Regions from separate parts of the Homo sapiens genome. Here region 2 is linked to region 1. Evidence: fine-mapped expression QTL. Tissue or cell type: whole blood. Region 1 holds a variant in brackets; the other region holds the start of a gene. All regions are shown on one strand. Distances are from middle to middle.

Region 1 (4,000 bases):
TTAATTAGAACACAGTTATTAGTGGTTCTTAAATTCAAAGTCATATAAATTTTAGTTTATGCTTGCACTTAACTCACTCAGTTAATTTTCAAACATAAGGTTCGACTCCTGTTATTAGCGACTTGACACGTTCTGCTGAAGCTCTCACTTTTCTTCTAATTCTGAAAGTACTTTTATACATTCTGAAATGGCATTTCAGCAGATGGAAAAATGAAGGTGGCAAATCAGGACCAATTTCTTATTTCAAGGTTAAATTAATACTAAACCAGACTATTAATGAAAACATCTTCATCAAAATTAACTAGAGAGTTGGTAGTTCTCTGAAACTTTGTATAAATTTTATTTATTACTGTAAATACTAAAATCACATTGAAAACACCTTAAAGTTAAGTCCCAACCCGATTATTAGAGAAAATCACTTGGGCATCCAGTCCCCTTGATCGAACCTGGGTAACAAAAGAGGCAAAAGACATGATTTGTGATGAAACTTACTATTCAAATGCTAAATGTTTTCAAGCTTTAATAAGGTATATATCAATTCCAAGTACCAAGCATAATATAAAAATTCAAATTCATGGGTTTACTCTTAATAAGCATCAAAAGCAAATTTTGCGCACTGAATCCTATCTTACTCTTGATTGGCACAATGCATTCAGAGATGAGTTATAATTAGGAAAAAAGAGTGTCCACTGAATGCATCATGTGTAAAAATGCAATTAACATTTCAAAACCACATTAAAAGGGAAAATACCTAAAAAGTTAACTCTTAATAAAATTATTTGAAACAATATTATCCTGCAGATAAAAATACATTTCTTGTATATACATGTAGATTTCTACATGAAAGAAAAGATTCAGCTCCAAATAGAAAAGGGCTGACCCTTGATAAAGACATCTTAGATTGCCAAACTGATGTGATTACCACTGTAAGAACTAAAAACAGAAGGATAAAAAGATTAAGTTAAAGGAAGGATAAAAGTTTAGTCAACTGCTCCTGAACAGTGGCAGAGTTGGGTGAGAAGTGGGAGATGAAGGCAGAAATAAGACAAAGAAGAAAGGCAAAGAAGGCTTCAACTCTGATTGAAAATGAGTGGAGAATCAAACAAAGTTGAGAACAGATATGATATAGGTACAGTGAGATACTTGAAACTAGAATTTGATAGTTGATAGTTATAGAAGCTCAATTAAATCATCTTGAAGTGGAATTAGACAAAGCATCTACATTTTAATGGAGAACCAGTATTACAGTGACCAGGTAACTCGGCATGGTATTATCACTTAAAAATTTTTCCTAAATACCATGAAGTCGGTAGAAGACCTTTGCATCAGACCATGTTCTTTGAAGCTTAAAAAAGTCCCTGACTGACTAGGAAAGACAGCACAGTGCTCCAAAAAGAAACCCTGCAGAGATGTATTAATACCAAAAACTCCATTTGACCCTGGACAGGCCCAGGATTCGGGATTCTTCACAATGAGGGGAATGGACCAGGTTTCTTCCAAGCAAAACATTCTATCGTTTTGTTGACAATGAATTAAATTGAAATTGTTTAGAACAATCCCAATTTTGGTGGGGAAGGAAAGGAGGATAAGTTAAGCAAGATAAAGAAAGCTCACAGAAACTTCATGCAGAGGTACAGCATTAAAGTTCTTTGTTTCCTAATTAATGTTGTATGCAGAAGTATTCTGTAAACTAAATTTTCCTGACAGAAAAGTTCCCACATCCTCAACAGATGAGAATGATTGCATTATTTGGGATCCTTGATCAATACGAACCACATACTGTCCCTTCTCAAAGACTAAGTTCCTTATTTTTCACCCAAATCCTATATATTGAAAGACAACCAAGGTGCTAAATGTTAACCACTAGTCAAGTTAGGAATGTCTGAAGAAAATATATTAACCTTGACATAAAGAAGATGTTTTTGGTCAAATTTCAGACATGTATTATTATAAATTAATAACTGGCTCCATCCACCAGGTTAAAGATGAAGGGAGGGCCTAAGATGTCTCTAGAGTTTATATACACACAAGTGAGTGTCACTGTTTTGTTTTGTTTTTGACCTAGTTTTATTAAATATTGCTTCCTTGGGGTGTGTTTATAACAACTCCCAGAACATTTCATGTAAGGATTCAAAGCGGTCATATTAAAATACAGCTTCAATATAAAGTTTATCACAGTTTTACAGTATTCAAAAATGACAGACCTGCCTTAAAAAACAAAACAAAAACCAAAAAAGGACTATTACACCCAAAACATAAGAAAACAATTAAATAAACAAGTTTGGCATTTTCAT[A/G]ACTTTATAGTATAAAACAGAATATTAAATTTATTACTGGCAAACGGACACTGATTTATTTCCTTTGAAATGTGTCCCATTTAAACACACTATACAAGTTCATTATACAAAAGATGGATGATCATTTTGATGAAAGAAGTGCACCCTGAAAATTTTTGCCAGTTTAGAATATTTAGCTCTTAAAGTTTAAAAAAAAAGTCCTTTTCCTTTTTTAAACTGAAGGCTGAATTCAGATTTTTTTTGTTGTCTCATCTGTCAGCCTTCCTGGTTTAAAAACAATAGTGTCTATGGACGCCCACCAGGGGGCAGTGTAAGATTAGCCATTAAATCACGAACAGCTGCAAATATTGTGCATTCACCTGCAACAGAGAAAAATGGTCATTAGCTATTCACAACACAGGAAAGATGTTAACACACCGGTAAGGGAAGGGGTAATTAAATCTAAAATTAGTGAGAACTTTAAAGATCAAAATAAAAGACAATTTTAACTGCCCAGATTATTGGGGATTAAGCTGTGGTGTTAAGTATCAGATTATATTTGGTTTGGATTTTTTTTCTCAGGAGGAAACTTCAAGCAAGTCCCAGTTAGGTTTGTATTTAGGAAGATATGTCTAGAGTTTCTGTTTAGAAACACTGTAGCATTAGATAAGCCTTTGAAGTTGGGCTTTAAGGCTACTGAGTGCTTATAAGGGCATTTTGGATATCATAAAAACATCTAGTTTATATTTATGCATTAGTTACAACTTTGGTGGTATCTTTCAAACGTTGCATTAAAGGCCAGATAAAAATGTTTAGGACAGCGCTGTCCAATAGAACTTTTTGTGATGATGGAAATGTTGTATAAGTGTGCCATGGCTATTAAGCACTTGTAATATAGCTAGTGTGACTGAGGAACTGAATTTAAAGTTTTATTTAATTTTCATTAACTTAAATTTAAATAGCCACATGCTGGCTAGTGGCAGTTATACTGGACAGTGCATGTCTCTGACATCTATTGGAGTTTTCTCCCAAAATTCAAGGAAATGGTCAACTTCCAGAGTTCAACATTAAAATCAATTAAATACAAAAATGATTTTCTTAAAAGCACTTCATCAGAAGAGAAGTGATGGGTGTGGGAGGTGGGGTGGGAGACTGAAGTATGGTACACCAACAATCCAAAAACAGGATTTGTGGGTGGGGAGGGTGCTGGCGATTCATCCTGTCAACTTCTCCTTTGCTCAAAGAAACCAAATACTCTGCTTCTTGTAATTATTACAAGTATTTAAATATTATAAACCAAAAGCTGGATCCCTTCCTCTACAGCATGGTCTAACACTGTATACAGTGGCTGAAAGTGGGAGAACTGAAGACCTCATGTGAACCATGGCCTTTCAGCAAAGGGCAGGATGTGCAGTGATCCTGTGCACATGAGAAGGTACAGAAAGAAAAAGGAAATCCAAAGGTCTGCCCAGTCCAAGGGGGGAAAAAAATGAAAACACTTCCAAAATATCTCAACAATTTCTGAAAAGGAGAAGTATTGTTTTTTAAAAAACACATTTTCATTATTGATAGGCAAGAAAACTTGCTTGATCCCAATAGGATCAAAACATTTTCCTTTTAATTTTAAATTCCACAAGACATAATACATAAAAACACATAAGATAATGACAGCCATCTGCTTGTGAAGGAATGGTGTTTATTATCAAGGTTCTACTGGACTGTTACTT
Region 2 (4,141 bases), 84 kb after region 1:
CTCCTGGGCTCAAGCGAACCTCCTGGGCCCAAGCAATCCTCCCACCTCCACCTTCCAAGTAGCTGGAACTACAGGCTTGGGCCACCACACCCAGCTAATTTTCTATTTTTGGTAGAGACAGAGTCTCGAACTCCTGGGCTCAAGTGACCCCCTCCCCTGCCTCAGCCTCCCAAAGTGCTGGGATTACAGGTATAAGCCACCACACCTGGCAATTATCAACACTTTTTAATCTCAGTGAGATGGGGAACCATCGAAGGGTTCTAAGCAGAGAAATTTTAAAAGAATCATCCTGGCTATTTTGTGGAGAAGAAACTATAGAAGGGGCAAGGGAACTACAGAGATACCAGTGAACTGACTATTGCAGTACACAGGTGAAGGATTAGGTGGCTTGGACCAGCACTTGGTGGAAGTGTTGAGAAATGGTCAGACTCTGAAGTCAAAGATAACAGGACTTGCTGATGTATGTAGGATGTGAAGAGAGAGGAGCCAGGAGTTATTCCAAAATATTTGGCCTGAGCAACAACAGGAAGAATGGAGAGACTAGTGAGATAGCAAAGAAGGTTCTGCAGGAGGGAGGACAGTGGAATCAGGAGTTTGGTGCTGGAGTTGCTATGTTGAAATGCCCATCAAGATACTGAAATGTAGGCATCTGGATATAGAGTCTGGAGTTCATCAGAGAGGTCTGTGCTGGAGATACAAATATGGGAACCATCACATAAAGGGTGTGGGACTATAACTACATACTTATTCTACGGCAATAAAACAGATGTTCCTCTCTTCATAAGCCAAGTCCTAAAATAGTAAAAAGACAACCACAATTCAAGGAATTTCTACAAATCCCCTATGGAAAAGCAAATTACACCACCGATAGCAGCAGTTTTCAACATTTTTTTTCCCACAGCTCTATATAGGCACATACATGAAACTTTCTCATGGATATTCTTGGATTTTTATGAAATCCAACAATAAATGGTGCAGAGAGGTATATCATTATAATAGTCCCTAAACCTGACAGCGATTTAAATTTCTCATTAGCCATGGGTAGGCTTCTTTAACACTACTTTTTTCTGTCCCATTCAAAAAAGTACAATACATCAAAACTGAGAATGACGTTTTACAGGAGTTAAGTAGAGCCTACTCTTTCAGTCATCTGCAAACAAGTATCTGTTATCAGTCTCTAAAAACAAATTACTGTGACGCTTTAGAGCCTAATATCTGCATACTAATGTATCTCAATTGATAACCCTGATCTGAAGTCTTGCAATAGATAAAAAATAAAATTCTGATTAACTTTTTCTGAACCTGGGTTATAAGATGTACAACAGAGTCCCAAAATGTTACGGTGCCTTTTCTTCACACACTGAAATTCGTTAGTATATTCTGATCCTATTCTGAAGGGATTAACAACTTAATCATGCCCCAAGGCATTTCATGGGTAACTAGGTGATTTATAAACCCCCTTCATACTCCAAGAAATAACAGACTACTTACAAAAAAATTTTACTCACACTAACTTCATTAAGACCTCAAACACTCAAAAGTTCCAGAAAAAAAGTACTTTGAATTCAAATTTGTATTTTATACACAACGTATGTAGCTCCTGCATTAACTTAGAAGCAATAACAGCTTACATTTAAAACGTATCGTCAAGAGGCTGTAATACAAATTTCCCATCTATAGAGTTTTTTCTAAAAGCTCGAATATTATGTATTCCAGCCAAGAAATCAAGAGAGTTCTGTTGGGAACTCGGACAAAAATTTCACACAATTTTCAGTGGAAGTGTAACAACACGCAAAATTAACAAGTCTCTGTTGCATCGTTGCCAGGAAGACCCCAGATACAAAGCTTCTTCTCCACCTCTGCTGAACCCCAGGAGTTCAAAAATTCTAGACTAAGCAGTCCAGCGGAGAACACAGCAGCCTCTCGGGGAGAGGGAGGTGCAAACGTCTCAGCCGGTTGGGCGGGAAGGGGGGCTGGGGAACAGGCAGGGGTTTCGGGGCACTTACAGGTCCGTCAACACCATAAGCTCCGAGTAGGCCCGGTGCAGCAGAAATTCAATGAGGGTGCTCAGCCGGTAGCCCGGGCTAGCCGCAGCTGCAGCGGCCGCCGCCACGGCGGCTCCCGGGGGAGGAGGGGCTGGGGCTGACGGGGGTCCGCCGCTGCCCCCGCCGCCGCCTCCGGGCGGGACCAGCTGGTGGTTCTCCAGCTGCACTGGGGCCATGGCGGCGCAGGACCGGGCTTGGCGCAACGGCACACGATGCGGTCCTCGAGCCTCCCGGGCGCTCGGTCACCGCGCCGAAACGGGAGCGGGCAGAGTCGCCACCGCCTACCGCCGGGCCGCCTCAGAACAGGAAGCCGTGCGCCGACCGCGGAAGCCCGCCCCCATGTAGCGAGAAGTCCGCCGACCCCAGGGACAGGAGCGAGGGGCGGGGGGAGGCGGGGATGGGGGGGAAGCAGGGCGGCCCCGCAGAGGGGAAGCTGCGCCTCCGCAAACGCTCAGAAGCAGCTTCGCCAGACAGCCGCAACGTACATGTTGACTGCCCGAGGCGGAAGTCGATCGGCAGAGCGGAAGGGGGACCTGCAGAGGACCTTCCGACAGGTCTGTGTCTGTTCTCTCAGCTGTCTAGCACCGCAGCGCTGGGGGGCGCGTGGGAGTGAGGCGGTACCTGTGAGCGCGCGGGAGAGCGGAAAAGGGAGCCGCGCGCCGCCGGAAACCAGGGTGAGGGCTGAGCCGGAGTCGTCACCGGGAACGTCAGCAGTTGCCCCGCCCTTACCCTCGCCGCTCTCCCTCCCGCCTCCGCCCCCTGGCGTTGTAAAGGCGACAATTTGCCCAGAGAAATCCACCATCGCTTCCTAAGTGGGGCACAAACACAGCCAGGGGAGGCCTCCTCTAAATGTTCGTGAATTCTGGTTCTGGAATCGCGAAGAAATGGGAGCGGCCGCGCGCTTGTGATTCTCAGGCCTTTGCTCCTCCCATACACGTCCACGGCGCGTTACGTGGGAGAACGTTTTCGCCCCTTTTTTTTTTTTTCCAAACTGTGGGAAAAGGTGCTAGAAAATATGATTGCGGGTAGAGACAGGGCCGCTGGCAGAGTAACTCAATTTTAATAGAGTCGGGTGTATGCTGAGGTCGTCACCATCCCCCAAATCCTGTCAGTCCCACACAAAAACGGCCCTTAAATCCCCTGCCACGGGCTCTCATATAGTTTTTGTCCTTGCTCTTGCAGTCACCGCTCTATTCTGAAGGGCTTTTCAGTTCATCCATGCCTACCGACACTCCCGTCCCCCCCATCAAAGTCCACGTTTAATTTTTTGTACCTGCTTTAAAACAGCGATTCTCAACCTTGGCTGCACTTTGCAATTATCTGAGGAGCTGTTTTTTAAAAAAATACTTAGATATATGGGTTCCACCCCTGTAGATTCAGATTTAATTGGTCTGGCTTGAGGTCTGGGCTTGGGGAATTTTTGAACTTTCCTAAGGTGATTCTAACATGCCCTAACGTAGAGATTCACTATTAGAAGCATTCGTTGCTGCGACCCCTTTCAAACATCTTTTTGCAGTTTCATCTCCTCTTGGTGTAAGAGATGTTCATGATGTTCCCTAAGGTTAGAATATTCTTACTGTCATCACTTGGGTAATTCTTTATCATTGTTGAAAGCGGTTCATCTGCTTCTGAAGGTGTAAGCTCACTTGTTCCCTCCCTTGGTGGTCCTAAAGCACATTGAAACAGAATATCATTGTGCTAGTTATTAAAATGCATTGGGATTATTTATACCCCTTACAGATACAGTTGCTGGAAGGCAGCTACCTTATTTTTAAATATTATTTTTATTTTTAATTGATAGTATATACTTATGGCATACAATGTGATGTTTTGAAACATGTAACCATTGTGGAATGAGCAAATCAGGCTATTAACATCTATCAAATGATATACATACTTACTTCTTTTGGTGAGAACATTTAAAATCCACTTTTAGCAACTTTGGAAGATACAAAAGGTTATTGCTAATTGTAGTCACATTGCTGTGCAATAGATCACCAGAACTTATTCCGCCTATCTAACTGAAACTTTGTACCCTTTGACTAATATTTCCCCTTTCTCCACCCACTGTCCTACCCGGCCTCTGGTGGTAACCA

The links. PIP is the estimated chance that this variant, and not a neighbour inherited with it, causes the effect.
Region 2: it holds the start of MED14, and the variant in region 1 is fine-mapped to the expression of MED14 in whole blood (TOPMed, PIP above 0.99). The same link has a PIP of 0.9 or more in monocytes.

The regions. Positions count from the first base shown.
Region 1 is chrX:40,649,227-40,653,226 of GRCh38, forward strand. It overlaps MED14 (mediator complex subunit 14), which reads right to left. Exons shown (of 31, transcript NM_004229.4): 31 at 1-2,653. The coding sequence ends at 2,580. Among named protein-coding and RNA genes, the nearest start is that of CXorf38, 3.7 kb to the left of the region's middle. The variant A/G (reference allele first, on the strand shown) is at 2,295.
Region 2 is chrX:40,733,192-40,737,332 of GRCh38, forward strand. MED14 (mediator complex subunit 14) reads right to left here and starts at 2,351. Exons shown (of 31, transcript NM_004229.4): 1 at 2,007-2,351. The coding sequence starts at 2,221. MED14OS (MED14 opposite strand) reads left to right here and starts at 2,499. Exons shown (of 2, transcript NR_169211.1): 1 at 2,499-2,599. RefSeq lists enhancers at 1,721-2,642, 2,643-3,563 and silencers at 1,959-2,338, 2,599-2,688.